Linked DNA regions of Homo sapiens. The protein of the gene in region 1 interacts with the protein of each later gene in a biochemical or structural test. Each region holds a gene or a part of one and is shown on either strand. Other genes may lie near its edges. The genes, in order: UBE2V1, PELI1, BIRC3 and TRIM25.

What was found.
Region 2: the proteins of UBE2V1 (region 1) and PELI1 form a complex in vitro, tested with the Homo sapiens proteins (3 studies listed by BioGRID).
Region 3: the proteins of UBE2V1 (region 1) and BIRC3 form a complex in vitro, tested with the Homo sapiens proteins (2 studies listed by BioGRID).
Region 4: the proteins of UBE2V1 (region 1) and TRIM25 form a complex in vitro, tested with the Homo sapiens proteins (one study listed by BioGRID).

Annotation. Positions count from the first base shown.
Region 1 is NC_000020.11:50,110,128-50,117,129, reverse strand, and holds the start of UBE2V1 (ubiquitin-conjugating enzyme E2 variant 1), read left to right. Parts: upstream 1-3,979; 5' UTR 3,980-4,001; coding exon 4,002-4,023; intron 4,024-5,567; exon of another isoform or gene 5,568-5,841; intron 5,842-7,002. UniProt on the Homo sapiens protein: Has no ubiquitin ligase activity on its own. The UBE2V1-UBE2N heterodimer catalyzes the synthesis of non-canonical poly-ubiquitin chains that are linked through Lys-63.
Region 2 is NC_000002.12:64,092,405-64,099,430, forward strand, and holds the end of PELI1 (E3 ubiquitin-protein ligase pellino homolog 1), read right to left. Parts: intron 4,874-7,026; exon of another isoform or gene 4,658-4,873; intron 4,207-4,657; coding exon 4,009-4,206; intron 3,910-4,008; coding exon 3,721-3,909; intron 2,865-3,720; coding exon 2,298-2,864; 3' UTR 248-2,297; downstream 1-247. UniProt on the Homo sapiens protein: E3 ubiquitin ligase catalyzing the covalent attachment of ubiquitin moieties onto substrate proteins. Involved in the TLR and IL-1 signaling pathways via interaction with the complex containing IRAK kinases and TRAF6.
Region 3 is NC_000011.10:102,320,462-102,327,487, forward strand, and holds part of BIRC3 (baculoviral IAP repeat-containing protein 3), read left to right. Parts: intron 1-1,375; 5' UTR 1,376-4,048; coding exon 4,049-4,901; intron 4,902-5,004; coding exon 5,005-5,104; intron 5,105-7,026. UniProt on the Homo sapiens protein: Multi-functional protein which regulates not only caspases and apoptosis, but also modulates inflammatory signaling and immunity, mitogenic kinase signaling and cell proliferation, as well as cell invasion and metastasis.
Region 4 is NC_000017.11:56,890,050-56,897,075, forward strand, and holds part of TRIM25 (E3 ubiquitin/ISG15 ligase TRIM25), read right to left. Parts: intron 5,904-7,026; coding exon 5,877-5,903; intron 5,556-5,876; coding exon 5,472-5,555; intron 5,393-5,471; coding exon 5,294-5,392; intron 2,181-5,293; coding exon 1,651-2,180; 3' UTR 1-1,650.

The DNA.
Region 1 (7,002 bases):
ATTATCTCATGTCTTCAGATGTCTGCAGTTGGGCAGCCCTGCAATTCCTTCAGCAGCTCAGCCACATCACCCAGGATTCTAATTCTAACCATTACAACCTCATATTGTAGGAAGGAGGAAAGGGGACAAAAATAGGCTTTTTCTTCAGCTTTTTTGTTTGAGACAGTCTCGCTCTGTCGCTCAGACTGGAGTGCAATGGCACGATCTTGGCTCACTGCAACCTCTGCCTCCCAGGTTCAAGCGATTCTCGTGCCTCAGCCTCCCGGGTAGCTGGTATTACAGGCCTGAGCCACCAAGCTCGGCTAATTTTTGTATTTTCAGTAGAGACGGGGTTTTGCCATTGTGGCCAGGGTGGTCTCGAAATCTTGACCTCAGGTGATCCGCCCGCCTCGGCCTCCCAAAGTGTTGGGATTACAGGTGTGAACCAGGGCGCCCAACCTTCTCTTCAGCTTTTATGAGGGGAGGGAAAGTTTCCAAACACCCACCTTGCCATGTGGGGCCATGGCGACTGGAATGGCGGTAAACATGCCCAATACACCTTCTCTCTGGGTTCCCTGCTACCAATATTGCTGCTGCCCAATTGGGTGTCCTCGCCCTGTCTCCTCATGGCAGCACGATGCACTTTGTAAAAAGGCAAACCTGCCCACATTTAGCTCAAAACCTCCCAGGCTCCACCTCCCTCATCACGGGAGAGCCAGCGGGTGACACAGGGTAAAGAGAACTGGATTCCAAAACTGATTTTACTCCTTCCTTGTTGTGTGACCTTGGAAAAGCCATCTAACTCCTCTAAGTCTCAGTTTTCTCATCTCACAAATGGAAATGGTAACAGCTACTTTGCAAGGTTCATTGAGGATTAGGTAATAATAGCAGCTAATACTTATATTGCACTTAGTGCCAAGCCCTCTTCTAAATTCTCTAGTTCTATTAACCATTTTAATCTTCCCCAAAATCCGATAAAACAAGACTCTTATCCCATCAGCTGAGTTTATCAGCTCAAGCGCAGAGCGGTGATCAGGCGCAGGCGCCGGAAGGAATCCTGCTCTGGGGACCGGCTGTGACGTCCAGGAATGGGGCAGAAACTCTTCGAGGGAGCGTGTGCGCGGGACGTACTACAACTCCCATCAGGCACTGCGCCAACGCTAGACTACAACAACCAGCATGCCTCGGGCTGTCCCGCCTAACCTCTTCCTGCGATGAGCTCGGCACGGGAATTATTATTGTCAATTTTACTTGCAAGAAGTTTCCTACAAGAGCCAAGGAATCCATGCGAGTAAACATTTACGGGCACCATAGATAAAAGGCTTGTGTTTTAATCCTCATCCTCTCCACCTGTTAGCTCTGAGTCTCAGTTTTCTCATCTCTAAAAATGGGGATATTCACAGGAGTTGCTGCATCGAGTTGTGAGGATTAAAAGTTGGATGTAACGGCTTGGTAATTATGAGCTCTTCTAGTGTCCCTTCCTCTTCCCTGTGCCCAAGGGGTTTTAGGAAAGCATTTTATCTCCACAGCAATCCTATGAGGTTGATACTACTATCCTCATAGAAGGGGAAACTGATGCCAGGAGAGGTTCAAGCGTCTTACCTGAAGTCACAAAGCAAACTGAGTGATGAAGGAAGACTTGAACCTAGAAAATTTCACTGCAAAGGTGAGTCCACCTTAGGAACCCAAATGCTTCCACTTGCTACTGATGCTTTACAGTGACCCCAAGTCCAGGGCAAGTATTTTCTGTGCTCCCCAAAGCAAACTTGTATCACGTGATACACGAAAAGTCAAGTTGCTTCACCTGTAGCCAGTGCTGGCACTTTGAGAGCTAATTATAGCTGAATTTGATGTGGTTGGAGGAATCGAGGAAGGCTTCCCTGAGGGGATGGTGCTGGATCTGAGAACTGAAGAGTGGGAACAGCACAGGCAAAGCCCCTGAAGTGGGAGAGGGCATGTGTTCCAGGGGGCTTGCAAAGGGCCAGTGTCGCCGCAGAGGTACAGAAAGTCTCAGAGGCGCAGGCTGTGCCAAGGCTATGGTGAGGCAAGTGGGGTACCTAGGGTGCAGATTTTTTTTTTTTTTTTGAGACTGAATCTCTCTCTGTTGCCCAGGCTGGAATGCAATGGTGCAATCTCAGCTCACTGCAACCTCTGCCTCCCGGGTTCGCTCGATTTTCCTGCCTCAGCCTCCCGAGTAGCTGGGATTACAGGTGTGTGCTACCACGCCCCGCTAATTTTTGTATTTTTAGTAGAGACGAGGTTTCACCATGTTGACCAGGCTGGTCTGGAACTCCTGACCTCAGGTGATCTGCCCACCTCGGCCTCCCAAAGTGCTGGGATTACAGGTGTGAGCCACCATGCCCTGCCCTAGGGTGCAGATTTTAAGGAGTCACTCACCTGCAGCGCTGTGCAAGTGCGGAGTCAGGACCTGAGTGAAAGCCCCGTTAAATCTGACCACCCCATCCTCGTCCCTGCCCTGGGTGCAGAGCCTGGTGCACAGGGTGTCCAGGCATCCTGCTTTGCCCTGGAGAGCCCTGGTTTCCACTTGTCCTGGTGAGATTATAATAAGTCCCCTTTTAATCTGATGTGTGTCCTCATTAGGTGATAATTCTATGGTCGCTCAACTTGTAAAGTTTGTATTTTATCCAGAGGGAATGGGGAGCCACTGAAGGCTTTAGCTGGAGGGTGTTTTGAGCAGATGTTGGTCTATATGGAGAATGGGCCATAGGGGAGAGAATGGAAGCTGCTGGGGTCTTCCAAGTGGGAGATAAAGGCAGCTTGCCCTGAGTGGAGAAGTGAACGGAGTGGAGAGATGCAGAGTAGGCACTGCTATCAGACAAAGGTGATGAATTGGATGTGCTGGGTGAGGGCTTCCAGCTTCCTTGTCCCTCTATGTTTAGAGTCCTGGTCCTTCTGCCAGTATTTTGCTCTGTGACCTTAAGCCAGTCCCTTCACCTCTCTCAGCCTCAGTGTCTACATCCATATAAGGGCTTCTCAGACAATTTATAATAAAGGAGGAGTACCTTCTTGGGTTTATTTATTTGCAAAAATATTTCCCAAGGGCCTTTGCACAAGCTGTTCCCTCTACCTCCTCATTGTTACGGTCTCTGCTGAAATATGACCACCTTAGGAGGCCCTTCCTGACCATCCTCTGCTGCTCTTGTCTTGGTTTATCTCTACCCTATCAGAATTATAGTTTCCTGTTTATTTACTTGCTGTCTACGACTAGAATGTAAGTCCCTGAAAGCAGGGATTTGCTTCTTCAGAGATGTCTATCCATCCCCAGCGCCTAGCACAGTGTCTGGTACATAGTAGGTGCTTAATGTTTGTTTGTTTGGTTGAATGAATGAATGAACGAATGAATGAATGAATGAATGAATGAATTGGGTAGATGGTTAGCAAATGCTTTCCCTGCCACCTTAATGCCCCTAAATCATTTAGCTGCACCCACTCCAAGCCTTCTCTGGCCGGGGAGCATCAATCCTAGGAGCCAGATCATCTGACCTGGAGGGTGATGATTCAAAAAATTTGAACCTGGAGGTTAAAATTCTGCCTGTCTCTGCCACTTAACAGCTGAGTTTAGATAAATCGCTTGATCTCTCTCGGCTGCATTTTTCACATTAATTCTGACCTTGCGGAGATGTGGTGAGGATCTAGATAGGAACTAGACAGGAAAAAGCCCCAAGCGAATTCGGCGCTTTTGTTTGAAGCTATATTTTCTTTTTCTTTCACAATCGCGCCTTCCCAAGCCTAGTCACCCCTGCCCTTCTCACTAAGCACATCACAACCTCCCTCGCACCCGATGTGTGGGGACTTGCAGGTTGCTGGGCCCTCGAGCACGCAGATATTTCCTTTCTCTAAAAGGGAAGGAAAAGAGCCTTCCAGGCCACGGGTCGTGCAGGTCTCCGGGGCGGGCGTCAGCGGCGGCGTATGTGCGTGCGCGCGCGCCTGCGCATCAGGGCCGGGGGACGGGTAAGGGGGGGGTGAAGAAGGGGCCGGCCTTCAAGCAAGAGCGACGCAAGATGGCAGCCACCACGGGCTCGGGTGAGCGGGGGCGCCGGGCCCGGCCGGCCGAGGGGGCATGGGCTTGGGCCGGGGGCCGGGGACCCTCAAAGCCTCCTGCAGCGGAGCCAGGGTCCCCGCGCCGCCTCTGTCTGCTGGGCTCCGCGGCAGCCACCGGCGCGGCCTGACCGGGGGAGGAGGAGCAGGCGGTGGCCGGAAGCACGGGCGGGGGGCTGAGGGGCCTGTGGGCGGCGCGGCGAGGCCCTGAGGCTCCCCCGGGAGGCGTGAGGGCCCTCTGTGCTGTCTGGGGGAGCCGGAGTGGGCGAGGAGCGAGCTCCGAGGCACTCCTGAGGATACCGGGGCTGGCGACTCTTAAGGGGCGATCTAGAGGTCCCCTAGAGGAGGCGCCCCACAGCGGATGGAAGTCCCATACTGGGTGCCAGGGGTGCGGCTGAGAGGGGCCTTGGGATGTCTGGAGGGGACATCAGAGAAGCCCTTCAGGCTGGATGGAAGAAACGGGATCCTGAGGGGGTGACTTGAGAGGATCCCCTATCGGTTGAGGGAACGGCTCCGGCGTTAGTTTTAGAGATGGGGTTAGCTGAGGAAATAGCTATGTTGACTAGAAAGGAGGAGCCTTGGAGCAGCTGCTTTTGGGGAGAATGAAGGGGGTCTCCGCATGATAAGTGAGAGGAGGGAAAAGGATTCAGATGCCAGAGGGACCTAATAGCGGTGATAGTGAAATGACCCCATCATTACCAGTCTCCTGTTCGAGGATACAGATGGATTGCTTCAAGTTAGGTTTCAGGGGACAAGGTCCGAGTGGGGCAGTTGGTGGAAGCCTCTGATATTGGATGAGGGAGAACAGATGAATTGGGAGCCCCGAGGATGTCTCTTTGGGAGTGGGGATTCAACTGAGGGAAGCCCCTGAAATGAGGGAGTGGAAAAGGTCGGGTTCCGGAGATGTTTCCTGTAAAGGAGAAAAGTCTCCTCTTTTTGAATTGAGTGAGGGAAGCATATCCTAGAAGTGTCTCTTCTGTGGAGACGCTCACTCTCATCGACTCCTTTAATAATTGGGACAGATATGTGGGTTCAGCTCAGAAGTTCCCCACTGGCTGATGGGAGTAGGGAGGTGAATAGATGAAATGGGAACTCTTGGGTGAGGCTGCACCCTCAGGTGCCTGGCAGTGAAGTTGGCCAAGGAGGTTCTCTCAGATGGGGTGAAAATGGGTTACCTCTCTGATGGAGGAAGCAAACAGGGCCACAGTGTTCCCCACTGTGGGGCTGCAGGGACACCAGCCTGAGTACAGCAATCATTGGCATATTTAAGGCCACAGCAGCGGCAGTGTTGGGAAGGAATTGGTGATCCATGGGAAATAGGGTGAGGGGAATTCTTTATAAATGTTGCTACTCTGCGGTCTCAAGGAGCCATACTTGCCTGATGGTTGGGGTGGGAATAAAAGAAATTGAATGTGGGGGATCTGACTGAAGTGACCCACCACAAGCTGCTGCCTTTTGAGTTTAAAACAGTGGGGTCTTCTTGCAGAATAGCGGAGACCATGAATCCTTTTACTCGATTTTGGTTTCAGCTGGAACAGTGCTGAGTCAATTCATTTACCATGACGCTGCCCCAGGCACTCCCAGAAGAGAGATTCTGAGTCAGGCCAGACTGCTGGGTAAAACTTCTCACCAGAATAACACTCCTACCGGGTCGTAATAAACGAAGGGGCCCAGTGTGCTGGTGGTAGCCAGCAATAAGGTGCTGTTGCAGCTCAGCCCTGCTTGCAGTCACTCGGTTGGCTACCTACAATCTGGGTTAACAGCTGCCCGGTTCTAACTTCTCCAGACCCTGACAGTTAAAAAGTGAGTGCTTCATAAATGGCTATGGTGATCAGATAAAATGTCAGCTGCTGTCTAGTGGAATACAAGAGCACTTGGCATGGTTTAGATAACATAGGACAGGCTTTGAGGTGCCCTAAAATGGACTTCCCAAAATTCTTTTGTCTGTTTATTCAACAGATATTTACTGAGGGCCTATTATGTCCCATCGTGGATAGCAAACAAAATGGACATAGTCTGTATCCTTCGGGAGCTTCCATTCAAGTCAGGGAGAGAAGGCTGTTAAGGAGTAAATAAGACAATTTCAGATAGCAGTAAGTGCTATGGAGGAAATTGTGTGATGTGATAGTGTCTGGAGAGGTGGTCAGGAAAGTGACATTTCAGCTGAGTCAAATAATGGAAAGAGCTAACCCTACAGTGTCACAGGCAGGAGAGAGAGTGGGCTGTTAGTGCAAAGGCCCTGTGGTGGGACTCTGCTTGGCATGTTGAAATAACAGGATAAAAGGCCTTCATGTGCAAGCAAGGCTTGTTAAGGAGATGAGTTGGAGAGACATGGCTTTGGATTTGAGATGGTATGAGGGGAAGCCATCAAACAAGTGTCTGGTATGAAGTAGGCATTCAGTAAATATTTGTTGAATGAATGAATAAGAGTCTTAAAAAGAGGAGTATGATAAGATCTGACCTTCGTCCCTAGGCAGTGAAAAGAGTGCAGGGTGCTAAGAGTAAAGCAGACCTTACTTGGGGTAAACTAAAATGAGTGTACAGGCCTCTCTGCTTTCTAACCCTGAGAAGTCTTCCAGGTGTGGTCAGGGCCCAGAGGCCTTCCTTAGTCAGGTTTAGAGTGAGGCTCTTGATTAATCTGTGCCTCCGGTTGCCAGGAAACAGCTGTGAAGCCTTTGAGTTCCTGTAAGGGCTGAACTTAGTTTTTTATGGTCACTGCTTTCAGCATTTGGCTACACCACCTTCCCACTTCCTTTGGTTCTGCAATGTGTGATATCTACATATGTCTTAGAGGGTGGAACTGTGAAAAGCCCACCACAGATCCTCAGAATCCCCATGTTATGACGGGTGACTTCCTCCTGCCTTGGCCAGGATTGCAGCACATCAAATAGTGGCCCTTGGTTGCCAGGCCCTTCCTCTCACTCAGCAGCCCACGAGCTTCCCTGACATTTAATCAGAAAATGA
Region 2 (7,026 bases), on another chromosome or scaffold:
TCTGCTTGAACAGCAAACACCCAACTGATCATTTAAATTGCCTGAATTTTTAAAACTTGAATTTGATAGAAAATGAGCCAGGTTTTTCCCTGTTAGAAGAGATTGTTTTTACCTGTTAGAAGAAAATGCAGGCAACTTTGGGAAGGACGTGCAACTTTTATGGTTACGAAGCCACTATTTAAATAGTCTAACATGCAACTTACAGGTGCCAACTCCCTAGCAAGGCTTAACTTAGAAAAGGCCTCAATTATTCAACCACTAACAAAGTTCCTTTATTAGTAAGAGATGCTTTTAAAAAAGAACCAGATACTTTAAAGTGTTACATTAAATGCAAACTCTTCATCTATTTCAAATGAGTATTTTTGGAGTGTGGAATAGAGTTGTTCACAGTTTTCACTTCTGGTTTCTCATTCTCGATTATGCAAAAATGAACTCACAGAGACGAATTCAATTATGTATTTTGAAAAGTATTTACTTAGTTTAAATAAATTAATTGCAAATAAAAATTAAGCTACAATATATAGCCTGAATAAAAATGACTAGAACAAATACAACACAGGACTTGCTTTCTTGCATTAGTCACAAAGCATGTGACAATCTAGAAAACTTCAAAATCAATTACATTTCTTTGAAAAAGGGGTAACAGCAGTTACTGATACATCACAACTAATAAACTTATAATACAAGTTTCCTGACATGCATTTCCTGAGTGAACCCAAATGATCATTTTTTAAAACAAGGAAGTTTCGACAGTTGAAGTAAAATAAAATAATTCATGGCTTCTAAGCAACAAGTTTTGTTTTTTAAAAACCAAAAGAAAATTCAGAACAGTTTTGTAATAGGATAAATTAAAGGTATGCTACCACATATAAAACTTTGCTACAGTCAGTTAAGTATTATACAACTTTTCAAACTAAAGGAAAACAAATCAAAATATTAAAAGAAGATACTGTCTAATCTAAAAGTGTACTGGTTTCTACAAGTGTCAAAAAAAGATTTGATGTAGTGCAACTGTCTATACTTGTGGTGCCTTTGAAAAAAGGGTGGGAAGGAGGGGAGAGAAGAAACTTTTCTTGCTTCTGGAAGCAAAAGACATATTGGAATTAGAGAATAAACAGACCATGCAGTGCGTCACTCCACGCTGCAGTCATTGGTGCTCATCTGCCAACCAAACATTTCCTTAAGTCTCACTGTGGCAATCTCCTTAGGATTCAAACCCAGAGTTAAGGCTGGTCTGCTAAAAACGGGGGCACTATTGTCATTCAACCCTTTAGATCTCTAGATTTCCTAATGCCCGAATAAGGCCAAATACAGAATAATTAATTAAGCATTTCTTTTTCCAAAAGCAAATCAAGTCACTCTCCTTTCTTGCTAATTTATACTTTTTCTTATGGCAATGATTTTTTTCTAGAAACAGTGAACAGATGAACCACAGTTTATATCCAAAAAATAAACTTGCCAAATGCTGCTGATACTAAAAACAGATTAGTTATCATGGGAGAAAAATAGATAATCTAGATTAAATTGCATATCCAAAGGAGCATATAAAATGTTTCTTAGCATTAAGTTTTTGTTATAGTACTACGCTCGAGAGAAACATTAAGAAAAAATCTTTCCTGATTATCTTCAATGTTGTTAAAAACAAACACCTTTCACGCGGGTAATTAGTATGAATTTGGTCTTACAAATTACAAAGTATTCTAATTTACCAAATTCCATATTTAGATTGGGGTGGGGAGAGAGGCTCTCTCGTCCTTCTTCCTAACTTTGCAAATCCTTGAGCTAGGTTGCTCACTAAGCTACCATTCACACCAAGGGTGTGACACCATCGTTACCATGCTACTCTATCAAGAACATTCTAAGGTATTTTCTATAATAAAGATAAATAGAAAAAAGTTAATATACATGTCGCTGTATTTTACAATGTTTGCAACAAACTGTAAACTAACATAGTTTGAACCAACAGTACCCTCAGTTATACAAAACAATTTCAGCACTGAGGATAGGTGATTCAAAAACACTAAAAGGAAGGCATCAAATTAGACTATGTCTTTTTCTCCTCAAAATATATTTTCAAAACTCAGAATTCAGAAGACTGATACTTTCAGAAATTCCTTTGCTTGAGTTTCCCAGATTTTTGCTCAGAAATTGCTACTATTTATTATAAATGTTTTAAAAAATTCTTCATCTTAATGCAAATGACCAGAGCAGAAAAACTGTGACGTGGACAACAGGTTCGAAAACCCAACTCACTTAGCTTATAAATTTATAATGTAGTCCTGCAAGACAATGGTCTGTTAGTCTAGAGGTCCTTGAAAAATAAGTCTGATGTAGCCTTGTTCACCAGCCAACTGATGTGCACAAAAGGGACAGGCTGCATGAAAAGTATGAGTACCATGAGGAAGTGGGATCTGGGACCAATAGGCAGTTGTCTTTTCTGAACACACATGCCCACACGGGCTAAACGCATGGGTTGGAGGGCCGGCGTCCACATAAAATCCAGCTTCACATCCAAGCCACAGAGGAACATAGGGACCAACAGACCTACACATAGGACATTCACGATCTTTTCCATCACGTTCTTCTTTGTTTCCCCAGTTATGATAGCCATGTACATGGCCGCAGTTTAGATATACCCATGGTTGTTTTTCATCTACAACGTCTTTCCTCTTCATACTAGGAAATGCTAGTGTGTTGAACCCTACAGGGCACTGAGGTCGTGCTGCATTGATTTCCTGTCTTAAAGCTTCTAAATGCTTCACGGTAGGAGTGTGGGAAAGGCCTTCTGCAGTACGCCATAACAATGTTGCACCACAGAGGTCAATTAACGAGCCATCTTGTAACTGATTGGTTTCAATTTCCACCTAGAGGAGACAAGAGTTGAAAAACATATTCACCACTCTGTTTTGGATTTTTACATAAGTGTTTTGGTTTTAAGTACTCCTTACTCAAGAAATGAGGTTTCCTAGGATTTTCACTAAATATTCAAGAAACTGACAGTAGTTATGAAAAATGTTAAGTTTGAAAATCAAGGATAAAATATCAAACATTAACATATTTCTTTTTAGCCTTATGGTAAAGACAACTTATGATTAAAACATCTGGCTAATCAATAAGTCTAATATTTTTAATGAGGTAAATATGGTTTAAGATATACAGATGGCAACAGAAAAGATCAGAGGGAGTGCTGTTTAGTTTAAGAAAGCTTAGGTTTTAAAATATATTAACATGATATGACAGAAGAATGAACTTCCAGAGTTTACTAAAATGCTCTTGTTGCCCAGGCTGGAGTGCAATGGCGCAATCTTGGCTCACCGCAACCTCTGCCTGCCAGGTTCAAGCTATTCTCCTGCCTCAGCCTCCCGAGTAGCTGGGATTACAGGCATGCGCCACCATGCCTGGCTTATTTTGTATTTTTAGTAGAGACAGGGTTTCTCCATGTGGCTCAGGCTGGTCTCGAACTCCTGATCTCAGGTGATCCATCTGCCTCGGCCTTCCAAAGTGCTGGGATTACAGGTGTGAGCCACCGCGCCCGGCTACTAAACGAAATATTAAAGAGACTGTCCTCTAGTATAGAATTTGGTAGTCAGTGTTTGATAGACTTAGTATTCTGTGTTGGCAATAGATTTAAGAGTTTTCTGGAATGTATGTAATGCATTCAGTTCTACTCATCCTATGTGTTTATTGTAGCTAATTAAGAAAATACCATTCAGTATTTACCATTTTTCCTCTCTGCTGAGCCGATCTGGTTTCACGTAGGCTAAATACATTTCCACACACCGATATTTCTCTCCATATTCCAGGCTTGGAGTCTTCTGTGAACCCATTGCGTGGATGCATCACAAGAACACCATTAGTGGTCAAGCCATCCATCTGTCCATCTGATGTCTTCCATTTGGCAGCCTTCTCCTAGTAGAAATAATAGCAGTGAGCTTCCAACTTGTAACTTGTAACTTGGAATGAAAGCTAGTATAAAAGAAAGCATCATTTAGAAAAAAAGCTTTTTACCCCAAGAAAGATGTTTTTTGATGAGTCAAATCCTGCAGCATAAATCCGTGCTGTAAAGGGAGGATTCCGTTCACATATGATTCTGCAGGCAAATCTTGATATAGTGCTTTGTACTGACTGTGTATCAGAATTACTTTGACTTCCAGGAACCGTGTCAGTTACTACAAAATCAATGGGGCTTTCAGTCGACCGGCCAATCTGAGGGAAAAAAAAAAATACCTATAAACCCATTCAAAGAGCACAGTGGAAAATCCATTCAAGAAGGGCACAATAAGGAGAGAACATTAGGTCTCTGAAATTTCTAAAGTTGAAGTTTACCATACTTAACGCTGGGGGCATCTATACTCTTGAAAACTAATCAGTCAGACTGTCTCTGATGAAGTAATCACTTAGAGCATGGAATTAAATGAGAACTTACAATAATATACGAAACCCTTAGGGAATGAAGAATTCAGGAACGGCTGAGATTTCTAGATGGCTGCAGATTTTAATTTTAACCCTTTTGGATGGAAATATGTGTATCATGTAGTTTTTTTCTCTTTAGAGATATTTAAAGAGATATTCTACCTTATTTAACAGAATATAGTGAACATATATAAGTAAATCTTTTAGGATGACTGCAGAACATTACACTATAAATACCACTTACGTTAAGCTGAAATGCAGTGATGTCTTCAGGTGCTACAAGAGGTATACAAGGCTGCTGGTCCTTATGTCAAGGGCTTACACAGCCTTGCTTTGAGGTCTTATGTATACTTCATATATTTTCTTGTTTCTTTTCTGTCAGGTTGTCAGCTATCACTCCTTGTTTTTGGTCATGCTTGTTTCCAGCAACAAGCCCCTCTTTTAACTGGCTACTCTTACTCTGTTATGGGTTGAGAAATCAAATAACCTATTTCAGAGAAAAGTATTTCAAAAGGTTCTGGTGAGAGCCTAAGGGATCCTCTAGGGAGAATAGAAAAGGAATTTCACTACATCAACTTTGTGGCATTTATTTTATATATATACTCTTCCTGGTTCTTAGGGATATTTCAGAGAGACAAGGTTCCCAGATAAGAGTTCTGGATGAGTGAGGTGTCAGAGATTTAAAAATATCTTCAGAGGTACTAGCTAGTAAATAAGTTAATTTCATTTTGAAAGTTGAAAGAAAAAAGGAAATCAATGGGGAGATGACAAAAGTGACAAGTGTCACGGGGCTTTAAAGCAAACATTTGGAAATTATCAGTTCATGAATGTATTTGTTATAAAGTAGTACCATAAAATTGAAGAATGTGGGTACTGAGAAAAAATACTGACCCTCTACAAAGATAAAGACTCTTAAAAGTCATTCTTTACATATTTTAGCCTCAAGTTCCTCATATCGGCACACTTTCAGATAAACCTCTTTAGTGTTTTTGTCCAACTGTCAAGTATAAAGTCTTTTTATTTAGATTGGATAGTTTTAGAGGGAAACTAGTTAACAAATATAAGATTGGATATTCCTTTTCTTTATTCTTAAAAATAAAGATACCTTAAATGGCCTCAGATCTTTGAAACAAAAAATATTCCCCCAAATAAAAAGGCTCTTTAAAAGCTAAAAGATATAGGCCAAGGATTGAACTAATATTCAGAATCAACAGAAGTAGCACTTATTTGGAAAGAGACTGTTCCAGAGAGCTGACATTTCAACTGGGTCTTGGAAGAGAATATTTAAGACACTGAAGCAATATTTGTAATGACAATGAGAAGGAAGAAACTTAAGTATCTATAAAGAGAAAAAAACCACCATGAATGTGATCAGATGCCAAAATATGATTGTTAATAATTCTTCCCCTGCTATTATTAGCATTAAAAATACAGCTCTTTTGTTACTCTCCCTTACCCTCATGAGAAAACTCAATGGTTCCTTATAGCTTATCCAAAATTTGTAGTTTATTATTTCTGATAATAGTTAGAAACTGACTCAAGATTTGCCTCCCATCTACCAATCCAGCCGAATTTCCTGCTATTTGTGTATACAAGCTACAACAGCTTATTCGTCAATCTTTCACCACACTGTGTACTACTTCTTTGCTTCTTTGCCATCTCTTTTGCTAGAATGCTTTTCTACCGGTTGCTGGCAAAAATCCTACTTAACCTGATAAAAAGATCTACATGAAAAGGCACCAGTGTAAAGTCTTTTCTCCATCCTTCTTCAACACAATCAATGTGCTTAAGATTTACAGGGTCAGTACAGCACCTAGGCATGTAATCAGCTTGTAATGTCTCCCTTATGTACTTCATAGTGACAAACAAGGCATAGAGTTGGAGTTGGAATATCTGATGACTTGAACAATAAATGTTCTTGTTCAGTTTACAGGGTAGACAATCCTAGAATGTTTCCAGTACAATTCCTCAAAGACTGGCTAGTTTATCAAGGTAGTTTCTGATACATCACAGTCTTTTTGATGCAGAAATGTTTGGATTTTCCAAAGGTATAATACCTGTAGAAAGGGCATAATCAGTTTATGATACTGGGGAAAATTCTCTACTTTATGAAAAAGACAAAACCCAAACTGTTAAAACTTATTCAAGGGCCTTCATTAGATGGTGAAGACATTGTTTCAGAATTCAGGATGCCTGGTTTAATTTCAGTTTTGCCCCCAAGTAACTCTATCATCTTTAACTCACAAGATTTCAGTTAACCTCATCTACAAAAGATAAGCGGTAAACAAATAAATATAACGTACTTTCTGAAGCTAAAATTCTAGCCTGTGACCAAATATCTTGGAGATACACACACACACACACACACACACACACACACACACATATATATTTATCTATATTTTATTAAAGAGACGAAGTCTCACTATGTTGCCCAGGCTGGCCTCAAGCTATCCTCCCACCTCAGCCCCCTGAGTAACTGAGACTACAGGCCTAGTAGCATCTTGATTTTAAAAAAAAGCTAAGCTCATTCATTTTCACTGCTTGTCAGTGAAACAAAATGTGAAAAATCATCCTAAAGCTTTGTGTTCGGTTTTTCTTGGATCTAAACAT
Region 3 (7,026 bases), on another chromosome or scaffold:
TCACCCAGTTTGAGGCTGGTCTCAAACACCTGGGCTCAAGCAATCCATCTACCTCAGCCTCCCAAAGTGCTGGGATTACAGGAGTGAGCCATGGCATGAGGCCTTGTGGGGTGTCTCTTTTAAATGAAAGCATACTCTGTTTACGTATTTGATATGAAGGAATATCCTTCCTTTCCACAAAGACAAAAATTATCCTATTTTTCTCAAAACATATGTCCTTTTTCTCTACTTTTCATTTTTGTTACTTTTGATGGACACATGTGTTACATTGATTTCACTTTCTCATAATTCTGCTGTAAGAAAAACAATAGTGCCAGTTCAATGACAAATAGCAACAGTCTGTTATTGCTAGACTGTTACTGTTAGTGGAGACTACCAGAACAGTCAGTCCCAGTGTCAGGGAATCAAAGAGAACATGTTCCCTCTCTAAAGGGCACAGCTGCTGCTCAGCTTTAGCTGATTGCTGCCCTGCAGGACTATAGGCCCAGTGTTGCTAGATCTTTTGATGTTTCAAGAGAAGCTTGGAATCTAGAATGTGATGGGAAGTCTCTTACATTTAAACATGTTGGCAATTAATGGTAAGATTTAAAAATACTGTGGTCCAAGAAAAAAATGGATTTGGAAACTGGATTAAATTCAAATGAGGCATGCAGATTAATCTACAGCATGGTACAATGTGAATTTTCTGGTTTCTTTAATTGCACTGTAATTAGGTAAGATGTTAGCTTTGGGGAAGCTAAGTGCAGAGTATGCAGAAACTATTATTTTTGTAAGCTTTCTCTAAGTATAAATAAATTTCAAAATAAAAATAAAAACTTAGTAAAGAACTATAATGCAATTCTATGTAAGCCAAACATAATATGTCTTCCAGTTTGAAACCTCTGGGTTTTATTTTATTTTATTTTATTTTTGAGACAGAGTCTTGCTGTGTCACCCAGGCTGGAGTGTAGTGGCACTATTTCGGCCCACTGCAACCTCCACCTCCCAGGCTCACATGATTCTCCTGCCTCAGCCTCCGGAGTAGCTGGGATTACAGGCGCGTACCACCACACCCAGCTAATTTTTGTATTTTTAGTAGAGATGGGGTTTCACCATTTTGGCCAGGCTGGTTTTGAACTCCTGACCTCAAGTGATCCACTTGTCTTGGCCTCCCAAAATGCTGGGATTACAGGCGTGAGCCACTGCACCAGGCAGAGGCCTCTGTTTTTTATCTCTTTTTGGCCTCTACAGTGCCTAGTAAAGCACCTGATACATGGTAAACGATCAGTAATTACTAGTACTCTATTTTGGAGAAAATGATTTTTTAAAAAGTCATTGTGTTCCATCCATGAGTCGTTTGAGTTTTAAAACTGTCTTTTTGTTTGTTTTTGAACAGGTTTACAAAGGAGGAAAACGACTTCTTCTAGATTTTTTTTTCAGTTTCTTCTATAAATCAAAACATCTCAAAATGGAGACCTAAAATCCTTAAAGGGACTTAGTCTAATCTCGGGAGGTAGTTTTGTGCATGGGTAAACAAATTAAGTATTAACTGGTGTTTTACTATCCAAAGAATGCTAATTTTATAAACATGATCGAGTTATATAAGGTATACCATAATGAGTTTGATTTTGAATTTGATTTGTGGAAATAAAGGAAAAGTGATTCTAGCTGGGGCATATTGTTAAAGCATTTTTTTCAGAGTTGGCCAGGCAGTCTCCTACTGGCACATTCTCCCATTATGTAGAATAGAAATAGTACCTGTGTTTGGGAAAGATTTTAAAATGAGTGACAGTTATTTGGAACAAAGAGCTAATAATCAATCCACTGCAAATTAAAGAAACATGCAGATGAAAGTTTTGACACATTAAAATACTTCTACAGTGACAAAGAAAAATCAAGAACAAAGCTTTTTGATATGTGCAACAAATTTAGAGGAAGTAAAAAGATAAATGTGATGATTGGTCAAGAAATTATCCAGTTATTTACAAGGCCACTGATATTTTAAACGTCCAAAAGTTTGTTTAAATGGGCTGTTACCGCTGAGAATGATGAGGATGAGAATGATGGTTGAAGGTTACATTTTAGGAAATGAAGAAACTTAGAAAATTAATATAAAGACAGTGATGAATACAAAGAAGATTTTTATAACAATGTGTAAAATTTTTGGCCAGGGAAAGGAATATTGAAGTTAGATACAATTACTTACCTTTGAGGGAAATAATTGTTGGTAATGAGATGTGATGTTTCTCCTGCCACCTGGAAACAAAGCATTGAAGTCTGCAGTTGAAAAGCCCAACGTCTGTGAGATCCAGGAAACCATGCTTGCAAACCACTGGTAAAAAAAAAAAAAAAAAAAAAAAAAAGCCACAGTGACTTGCTTATTGGTCATTGCTAGTATTATCGACTCAGAACCTCTTTACTAATGGCTAGTAAATCATAATTGAGAAATTCTGAATTTTGACAAGGTCTCTGCTGTTGAAATGGTAAATTTATTATTTTTTTTGTCATGATAAATTCTGGTTCAAGGTATGCTATCCATGAAATAATTTCTGACCAAAACTAAATTGATGCAATTTGATTATCCATCTTAGCCTACAGATGGCATCTGGTAACTTTTGACTGTTTTAAAAAATAAATCCACTATCAGAGTAGATTTGATGTTGGCTTCAGAAACATTTAGAAAAACAAAAGTTCAAAAATGTTTTCAGGAGGTGATAAGTTGAATAACTCTACAATGTTAGTTCTTTGAGGGGGACAAAAAATTTAAAATCTTTGAAAGGTCTTATTTTACAGCCATATCTAAATTATCTTAAGAAAATTTTTAACAAAGGGAATGAAATATATATCATGATTCTGTTTTTCCAAAAGTAACCTGAATATAGCAATGAAGTTCAGTTTTGTTATTGGTAGTTTGGGCAGAGTCTCTTTTTGCAGCACCTGTTGTCTACCATAATTACAGAGGACATTTCCATGTTCTAGCCAAGTATACTATTAGAATAAAAAAACTTAACATTGAGTTGCTTCAACAGCATGAAACTGAGTCCAAAAGACCAAATGAACAAACACATTAATCTCTGATTATTTATTTTAAATAGAATATTTAATTGTGTAAGATCTAATAGTATCATTATACTTAAGCAATCATATTCCTGATGATCTATGGGAAATAACTATTATTTAATTAATATTGAAACCAGGTTTTAAGATGTGTTAGCCAGTCCTGTTACTAGTAAATCTCTTTATTTGGAGAGAAATTTTAGATTGTTTTGTTCTCCTTATTAGAAGGATTGTAGAAAGAAAAAAATGACTAATTGGAGAAAAATTGGGGATATATCATATTTCACTGAATTCAAAATGTCTTCAGTTGTAAATCTTACCATTATTTTACGTACCTCTAAGAAATAAAAGTGCTTCTAATTAAAATATGATGTCATTAATTATGAAATACTTCTTGATAACAGAAGTTTTAAAATAGCCATCTTAGAATCAGTGAAATATGGTAATGTATTATTTTCCTCCTTTGAGTTAGGTCTTGTGCTTTTTTTTCCTGGCCACTAAATTTCACAATTTCCAAAAAGCAAAATAAACATATTCTGAATATTTTTGCTGTGAAACACTTGACAGCAGAGCTTTCCACCATGAAAAGAAGCTTCATGAGTCACACATTACATCTTTGGGTTGATTGAATGCCACTGAAACATTCTAGTAGCCTGGAGAAGTTGACCTACCTGTGGAGATGCCTGCCATTAAATGGCATCCTGATGGCTTAATACACATCACTCTTCTGTGAAGGGTTTTAATTTTCAACACAGCTTACTCTGTAGCATCATGTTTACATTGTATGTATAAAGATTATACAAAGGTGCAATTGTGTATTTCTTCCTTAAAATGTATCAGTATAGGATTTAGAATCTCCATGTTGAAACTCTAAATGCATAGAAATAAAAATAATAAAAAATTTTTCATTTTGGCTTTTCAGCCTAGTATTAAAACTGATAAAAGCAAAGCCATGCACAAAACTACCTCCCTAGAGAAAGGCTAGTCCCTTTTCTTCCCCATTCATTTCATTATGAACATAGTAGAAAACAGCATATTCTTATCAAATTTGATGAAAAGCGCCAACACGTTTGAACTGAAATACGACTTGTCATGTGAACTGTACCGAATGTCTACGTATTCCACTTTTCCTGCTGGGGTTCCTGTCTCAGAAAGGAGTCTTGCTCGTGCTGGTTTCTATTACACTGGTGTGAATGACAAGGTCAAATGCTTCTGTTGTGGCCTGATGCTGGATAACTGGAAAAGAGGAGACAGTCCTACTGAAAAGCATAAAAAGTTGTATCCTAGCTGCAGATTCGTTCAGAGTCTAAATTCCGTTAACAACTTGGAAGCTACCTCTCAGCCTACTTTTCCTTCTTCAGTAACAAATTCCACACACTCATTACTTCCGGGTACAGAAAACAGTGGATATTTCCGTGGCTCTTATTCAAACTCTCCATCAAATCCTGTAAACTCCAGAGCAAATCAAGATTTTTCTGCCTTGATGAGAAGTTCCTACCACTGTGCAATGAATAACGAAAATGCCAGATTACTTACTTTTCAGACATGGCCATTGACTTTTCTGTCGCCAACAGATCTGGCAAAAGCAGGCTTTTACTACATAGGACCTGGAGACAGAGTGGCTTGCTTTGCCTGTGGTGGAAAATTGAGCAATTGGGAACCGAAGGATAATGCTATGTCAGAACACCTGAGACATTTTCCCAAATGCCCATTTATAGAAAATCAGCTTCAAGACACTTCAAGATACACAGTTTCTAATCTGAGCATGCAGACACATGCAGCCCGCTTTAAAACATTCTTTAACTGGCCCTCTAGTGTTCTAGTTAATCCTGAGCAGCTTGCAAGTGCGGGTTTTTATTATGTGGGTAAGAAACTGAATCTGCTAATTAAAAAAAATATATTTCATTTTATACATTTTAGTGGGCAAATTATGTGTATTCATAAGTTTTGGTCTAAAATTAATTTTAGGTAACAGTGATGATGTCAAATGCTTTTGCTGTGATGGTGGACTCAGGTGTTGGGAATCTGGAGATGATCCATGGGTTCAACATGCCAAGTGGTTTCCAAGGTAATTGTTTTGAAATTCTCTTTGCAAATTCTTGTGATTATCATGAGATTGCTTATATGTGTTCACCTGAAATCAGTTGTTACTTTACTCTGTTCCAAATATATATTTGTGAATAAGTTTAGGATGGATTACTTAGTAAAATACTTACTTAAAAAGTTTCGATGGACTTAAGACAACGAAGAAATAGATTTGGGGATTTTTGTTTAATTTTTAAAGAAATATATATATATTTAAATAATACATGCTCATTATAAAAACAAAGTCACACATTGTAGAAAAGCACAGAGAAGGAAAATTAAAATGTCCAGAAATCTTACCGCCTAAGGATGAGCATGGTTACCACTTTAGTGAACATCCCTCCAGACATATAGAAATAAATGTATATGATACATATACATATAGAAATAAATACATATACATATAGAAATAAATGTACACCATTTTACATAAGTTAAATATTATATCTAGTTTTGAAGTTTTTTCAGTCAACATTTGTCTTGGATATATTTCCATTCATTCGGTATTCAATAATAATTGATCACCTATTGGCAGGCATTGTTCTGGGTGCATAAAATCAGTTGAACAAAACAAAGACCCCTGGTCTCCTAAGTTTTTATTATAGCACGAGAGAACAGACAACTAATAAAAACTTGAATAAGTTCTATAGCATGTTGGAAAATAAGTACAATCAATAAAAAGAACAAAGAGGAGTTTAGAAATGCCAGGCAGGTTACAATATTAAATTGGGTGGTCAGGGTAAGTATAGACTCATCTCATCTGTTTTAGTCGCCACGCAGCATTTTAATGTGATGTGTTACCCTTTTGATTGTTTAACTGGCCACCTAGTGTTCTAGTTAATCCTGATTAGCTTGCAAGTGTGGGTTTTTATCACGTGGGTAAGAAACTTAATGTACTAACTAAAATATCAGCTTCAAAAAGTTTTTTACACTCTCCTTTTTCATCTAAATCATGTGGCCTACAATTACATTTTTTCATGGTCAAAACTTTTGCTATTATTCAACCCGTTTCCCATTTGCCCTGAGAATACTGCACTGGCAACAAGCTGCACTGTTTTTTTTCTAAATGGGAAATGGGTTAATATCGATTAATAAATGTGGCATCTTAACTTATTTTGATTACTTTTTTTCCTCTTTTCTTTTGAGATGGAGCCTGGCTCTGTTGCCCAGATTGGAGTGCGATGGTGTGATGTCAGCTCACTGCAACCTCCGCCTCTTGGGTTCAGGCAATTCTCATGCCTCGAGCCTCGCTAGTAGCTGGGATTACAGGTGCACGCTAGCATGCCCAGCTAATTTTTGTATTTTTGTAGAGACAGGGTTTCACCATGTTGTCCAGGCTGGTCTCAAACTCCTGACCTCAGGACTTTGAGGTGCTTGCCCGGCCAACATCAGTGTGTTTTAAGAATCTTAGAAGAGTTGAAGAGAGTAGCTAAGAGCTCTGAGGAGAGATGGTCTTACTTGACCTCAGTAGACTGAGGGGCTCCTGACCCTTGTCCACTTGAGCCTTGGTAGATAACTAGTAATCACCTTCCTCTTGCTTATATCAACCTGCCTTTCACTGCAATATCTCTGACCATTCCCTATATGCTAAATGAATAGTAAATTGATTATATGTACATTTATACTCATTTGAAATATTTATACTTCACAATATATTAAGAGTAAATTGATTATATGTATGTTTATACTCACTTGAAATAGCCAGTCTACAAATGGCTGGATTAGTCCTGCCCAAATTAAGATAAACCTTTAGAACTTTTCAAAATTAGCTGAAGTGGTCGGGTGCAGTGGCTCATGCCTGTAATCGCAGCACTTTGGGAGGCTGAGGCAGGAGGATCACTTGAGGTCAGGAGTTCGAGACCAGTATGGCAACATGGTAAAGCCCCATCTCCACTAAAAATGCAA
Region 4 (7,026 bases), on another chromosome or scaffold:
CCCTAGAGTTCCAGCACGAGGCCTGAGATGCATTACATTCTCAAATATCCATATGAAAAGGTCTGGGGTCTCTAGTTCCCCAATGGTGACTTCTTTTCATATTATAGGAAGCCTGACAGGAGCTCTCCTCTAAGCAAAGCCCAGAGTTGGACTCATTTCACTATAAGAGGCTAAATTCCTCATACTCACATCCTGACAACATTAGGCTATAAGGAGCTTGGGGAAAATCCAGCCATCCATTCACTCCCGCCCCTTAGTGGACTGGGTTATTTTCACCACACAGAAACACTGCAGGGAAAATAGCCACTTGTGTGACCCTCTTTAGCTCTTTCCCTCCCTCCCTGATCAATGTGAGCTTATATAATTGGCTTAAATGAGGAAGTCAGTAGAAGGGGCTAGGGCCAGCCCCAGGCTCTGACTCACGCAAGGGCCAGTGCTGGGTCTGCAGCCTGTGGCCAGGGATGAACAGGAATGTTCCTGTTCCCCATGAGGTTTGCTAAAAGACCCCTTTGGTGGTAGGTTGACACCCCAGCAAGTGGCCTAGCATGGTCCGAGGCAGCCGCATAGCCTGTCTGCATGATAGCAGGCTTCAGGGATCCAGCTTAGCTGGAGGCTTGACTGTGCTAGCCTCGGTGGTACCTGCACTGTCATTCCATATGTCACAATCCAGGGAAGAGAGGCTATCACCGAGAAGAGTTGTCAGTAAGAAGGCAGGACACTCTAACACGAGCAAACCCACCAGGCTTCTGTTGATCCAGGGCAGCATCCCCCTCGCCTGGCAGAGTTCCTTGCCCCACAGCCAAGGCTATGGGAAGCAAGGCCTCCAGCAAAGCTCATGGCTGCCACCAAAGCATCTCTGCCAAGATGCTTCTTATGATACTTAGGAAGGATTTCCACCCAAACTGGATCAGGGTCACCATGACCCTGAATCACAAATCCAACACAGGCTGATTCCAATCATGGTTTGAAGCTTTAGCTGAAAAGTTTGCTGTTTGAAAACCATCAATGTGGGGGCGATGGGTGTGCAGGGTAGGAAGGGAACGCACTATTTTCCAGTGGAGGAAGAGGGTATGCCTCTTTAGGAAACTGTTCTGGGTAGAGACTGCTGTGGGTGTTTCCTCAAGCACAGATAATAACCAGGAGATCAAGCCCCAACATGCGGGTAATGGAGTTTATGTAACATTGAAACTCAATGACTTTGGAACTTTAAAAACATCTATAGTAAGAATTCAAAACACCAAGATCTGAAGGCTACCCCAGAGAGCAAAGGGGCAGCCTTCAGATCCAAGTGGCCCAAGACAGAACCTACAGTAGCTATGGATTTTCTCTAAGAGGAATCGGGCACTCATGACTTCACTTCCCAGAGCTCTGCCCAGCTGCCCAGCAGCCTGGAGATTTCCAGAACAATGGGGAGTAGGTCACCCTGCCCTGATAGGCACCAGGGGGTGGAAACGCCTCCTCGCCCACAACACAATCACTCTCACCCCTTTCCTGGCTAAATCCCACCTCCCACCCTCCCGCCAGCTCCCCTCCCATGCTCCCAATCCTTGGGACCTCTTGGGGAATTATCCAAGGAGAGTTCTGCCTGCTGTATTTTCACTAGGGTCTTGGGACTTCTGCAGGCAGTCAGCCCAAGTGCCTACAGCCTGCCTACTTGGGGGAGCAGATGGAGAGTGTGGCACCAGCAGAAAATACCCAGAAAGCCGGGTACAAAGCCTCAGTAAAGTCCACCCTGAACTTATACATCAGGTGGACCTTGTCGGCAACAGCGAAGAAGATGACAAAGCCGTGGTCACAGTTGAGAAGCACGCCCACCCGCGTGGCCTTGGTGGAGGGCAGGGTTTTCTCCACGTTATTGTGCCAGGCAGAGATCTTGGTGTTGAACCACTCCACGCACCAGGAGGCGCTGTTGCGGCCGAGCCTGCTTTCTGGGCCCTGCCGGTTCATGCTTCCGTAGCAGATGCCTACCCCACAGAAGTTGTTCTTCTGCAGCTCCACCTCCCAGTAGTGGATCCCCTTCTTGTAGCAGTGCAGGCCCAGCACCTGAGAGCAGTATGTGAACCTCTGGGGATGCGGCCGGTAGTTCTGAGGCATCTCAGCCACAGAAGCTACTGTATAGCACTCTGACAGAGCCACTTTGTTGTGGGCGGTGTTGTAGTCCAGGATGACTTTAATGTAATCTGAGAAAACATCACCCCAAGGAATTAATTACAAGGGGCCCAAAGTGCTCTTTTAGACCTTTGCCAAAGTGGTACTATTTATTCACTAGTTTTATCCATCCATGCACCCATCTACCCATTGGTCCATCCATCCACTCATCTATCCATCTGTCTGTCTATTCATCCATCTATCTGTCTATCCATGTATCCATCAATCCATCCATGTATCCATCCATCCATCTATCCATCTACCCATGTATCCATATACCCATCTATCTACCTATCTATCCATTCTTCCATTCATCCATCTATCCACTTATCTATCCATCCTTCTGCCTTTCCATTTATCCATTCATTCATTCATTAATCTATCCACTTATCTATCCATCTGTCCATTTATCCATCCACCCATCTATCCACCCATCCATTATTCATCAGCTCATCTATCCATCCATTCATCCATCCATTCTGTCCAGCCAGCCAGCCATCTATCATCTATCAGTCATCCGTATGTCTGTCCATTCATCCATCCAAAACCATTTACCAGGCACCTGACTGACACCAGATTCTGGCACAAGATGCACAACCATGAACCAGAGAGACAAGGTGCCGGGCCTCATGGAGTTCACACTCCAACAAGCAAGGCAAGTCCATCAGTAACAACACCATGAGACTCACACTCTGCCAAAAGGGTAAGCACACACTGTAGGGACACAGAGACAAGGCAACTGATGCTACAGTTGGGGAACATTTCACTGGCAGGCTGGAATTGGAGCCAAGTAACAGAAGATGAGAACTAGACAGAGGAGAACAGAGAGAGAAAAGCTGTTCCAGACAGAGGGAACAGTGAGAGTGAAGCCACGGAGTGCCAAGGGGATTCGCATGTGCTGGGATCGGGGAAGCTGGGTGGCTGGGAACACAGATGCAGCAGGAGAAGGGAAACATGTTGGGGCTAGAAAGGGAAGGGCTTAGGAGGCTAGACTTTAACTGGTGGGCAGCAGGGAGCCAAGCGAGGCACTCATTTGCTAGGTGGCTCAGGGCATGACACTTTTCACTGGAGCCCGAGTTTCCCCCAAGGCAAAATGAATAAGCTGGGGGTGGAAAAGGCCCTAAGTTGATAGAATTTTACTTTCCCTGTTTATGCGGCTGCCACAGAGTGCACAGCAGCTCCTGAAAGACGTGGCTCAGCACCGCCGCTAGCAGCTTGGGCAAGAGTTAGCTGCAGCCCAGGGCTGGTCTGGGCCTCTCTTGGGGGGCAGGGACAGCGGAGGGCTACAAGAAGGCCAGCCCTGAAAAAGCAAGGGACCCACAGATCCCCACCAAGCCTGCTGCAGCTGCTTATGATAAAGGAAGGGCTATATTTTTCAGTGATTGGCTTTGGCCTCCACATGGAAGTGGGTACCACTGGCAGGTGCTGCCTGGAGTGTTGCACGTGGGTGCAGAAGAAACAAGAAGACGGAAAGTGGGAGGGCCCTAGGCCTGGCCTTGACAACGGAACTCCACCCACTTCCAGGTTGGACGAGCTTGCAAAGGAGGGGTGGATGGAAACCCAGGGGGGTATAGCAGCTCAAGCGGCAAGGGGAGAGAGTGTCAGAAGGAGGAGGAATGCCACTGACAGGTGAAGCTAAATAAAAGCTGAAAGGCGTCCCTGGATTTTGTGACACGGAGTACCCTGATGACCTCAGAGCTGCCTGGGTCAAGGGCAGGACAGAGGTCAGAATGCAGTGGCACGAGGATTAGACTTCAGGCTCCCACCTCGGCCCCACATTGCAACCCTGGGCAGCCAAACACCAACATTCTGAATGAACCAGTCTGGGGGACAGCCTGGGCATCGGGGATTTTAAAAAGCTCCCCAGGATTCCAACACGCAGCCACAGTTGAGAGCCACCAATGTAGAAAATCTGCAGAGCTGCTTTTCCCCAACTGTCCTCAAAAGGATCATGGAGGAAATGAGCTAAACATACAGCTTTCCGTGCTTGCCTGAGTCTGATCTTGTAGGGCTAGAACAGGGCCCAGGAATTTGGTTTTTGGGGTTTTTTGTTTGTTTGTTTGTTTTTTAAGACAGAGTCTCGCTCTGTTGCCCAGACTGGAGTGCAGTGGCACAATCTCGGCTCACTGCAACCTCCACCTCCCAAGTTCAAGTGATTCTCGTGCCTCAGCCTCCCAAGTAGCTGGGATTATAGGCATGTGCCACCACGCCCGGCTAATTTTTTGTATTTTTAGTAGAGATGGGGTTTTGCCATGTTGGCCAGGCTGGTCTTGAACTCCTGACCTCAGGTGATCCACCTGCCTCGGGCTCCCAAAGTGCTGGGATTACAGGCATGAGCCACCGCACCCAGCTAGTAATTTGTATTTTTAACAAGCATTCGGGTGAAAGGGAGGCAGGAAACAGAGCTGCAGCTGAGACAGTTTTGCTAGGTTTGTTTTTGTGATTTGGAGAGATGTAAACGTGCTACAGATAGGCAAGCCTAGGTAGAGATGCTGAGGGTGAAGAGATGGGAATGGAAAGGCCTAAGAGAGAGCAGAAGATTCCAGAGAGCGTGTGGGGAGCAGACTCCAGAGCCCAGGGCCAGGGGGTCTTGGGAAAGGGGCCAGGAGGCGAGGAAGGGGGCACAGTAGATGCAGATGCGATGTCAATAACAGAGCAGGGGGAGCCCCTTCTACAGTGTCTGTCTTTTTCGTGAAGCAGAAGGTGGGCGGGACAGGGAGAAGGATGGAGCTATGGCCAGTGGGAAGTCTTGGGAATGGTGGCTCTGGAGAGTGGTGGGGAGGAGACAGGAGATGCAGGGCAGGCATGCCGGCAACGGGACGCCCGGTGAAGGCCGGTGACCGCAATCGCCCTGCCTTCTCTGCAGAGGACATGCAGGCGCCGACCCACAGAGAAAGGTGAGCTCAATTGGGCCAGACTAGACGGCAAGAGGGAGAGTCAAAGGACCGATTGTGAAATCTGAGCTAGTTAGGAAAAGTAAAGAAAGGCACTGATGACTGGGAGAAAATAAGGGAGCAACAAAGTAGAGGACAAGTGAAGGGGAGTGGCTGATATAGCCGGCCAGCTGGCCTCACAGAGAGCTGCACAGAGCGGCGCAGGAGAGACAGAACCAGTGGAACCGCGCACCAGCCCCGAAGCTACTCACACTCCAGGAGCTCAGGTCTGGACTTGGCCAGGAAGGTCTCCAGCACCTTGGCCTTGAGAGATGTTGAGTTCGGATGTGAGCTGGTGGCTTTGGCTGCAGCTGGGAGAGGAAACAGAGAGTGATTTGCAGAACAAACTCAGAGTGGACACCCCAAAGCTCCTTGCCCATGATAACTTACCCTCCAAGCCAGCTTGTTTTAAATCCACTAACTGTTCCGGGGCTCCAAACGTGGGAAGCTTGCTGGGTAAGGCAGGGACAGGGGCTGGGGGTAAGGAAAGGGAAATATGATACAGAGCAACGGGATGGCCTCTACTCCCTTCCACACTGATTAAGAGCCACTTCTACAAACACACGCCTGAACAGCAGGACAACACAGGGGAAAACAGACAAGGCTAAAGTCACCTTATTCATCTCACTTATGCTTGTCCTCCCCTCCAGCCTCAGGCCTGCTGCCATTACAGAATGGAATCATATAGAACCCATCACAGAACCCTGATGAGAGAGGTCGACTCTCACTACCAGCATTTAGTTCTGTGCTCGGGCAGTCTCAAGAAACGAACAGTTGCAGAAATGCATAACTTACGAGGTTTCTTGGATTTCTTTTCCTCTTCTGCAAAAGAAAGTTTTCAGATTTAATTTCTTTTAAGGCACAACACAATGACATTTTCAAAATAATAACATTCATGTGCATGAATTTGACCCAGACAAATAAAAGGATGTTTTAATTTGAAAAACAGAAGGAGTCAGCAGGCAAAATGAATCTATAGTGATAGAAACCAGCATGAGCGGTCGTGGGGGCGGGGACTGACTAATAAGGAGCATGAAGGAATTTTCTGGAGAAAGGGAAATTCTTTATCTTGATTTGAACAATGGTAACACATGTATGCATTTGTCAAAATAGATCTAACTGCACATTTAAGATTTACTGCAGGGAAAAAAGAGATTTACTGCAGGTAAATTATATTTCCATAAAGGAAAAAACACAAAAACCAAATAGGGAATCAGAAAAAAAAAAATGCTTGCCAAGGGCTGGGCGCATGGTGGCTCATGCCTGGAATCCCAGCAATTTGGGAGGCCAAGGTGCAGGAACCACTTGATCTCAAGCGTTAGAAACTAGCATGGGCAACATGGGGAAACCCCATCTCTACAAAATTACAAAAAAAAAAAAAAAGAAAAAACTAGCCAGGCCTAGTGGCACACACCTGTAGTCCCAGCTACTTGGGAGGTGAGGCAGAAGAATTGCTTGAGCCCAGGAGGATGAGGCTGCAGTGAGCTGTGTTCTTGCCACTGCACTCCAGCCTCAGCAACAAAATGAGACCCTGTCTCAAAAAAAAAAAAAAATGCTTGCCAAGTCTTTTAAAAATATCTGGAGTGTCTACCTACAGGAACTGAGTTTGGCTAAAATAGTCGTTCTCAAAGTCTGGTGCCCAAGCCAGCTGCAGTGACATCACCAGAGAACCCCTAAGAAATGCAAATTATTGGTCAGGCACTGTAGCTTACTCCTGTAATCCCAGCAATTTGGGAGGCTGAGGTAGGAGGATTGCTTGAGGCCAGGAGTTCAAGATCAGCCTGGACAACATATCAATATCCTGTCTCTACAAAAAAAAAAAAATTGTTTTAATTAGCCTGGCTTAGTGGCACATGCCTACAGTCCTAACTCCTCAAGAGGCTAAGGTAGGAGGATCACTTGAGCCCAGGAGTTCGAGGCTGCAATGAGTTCTGTTCGCACCACT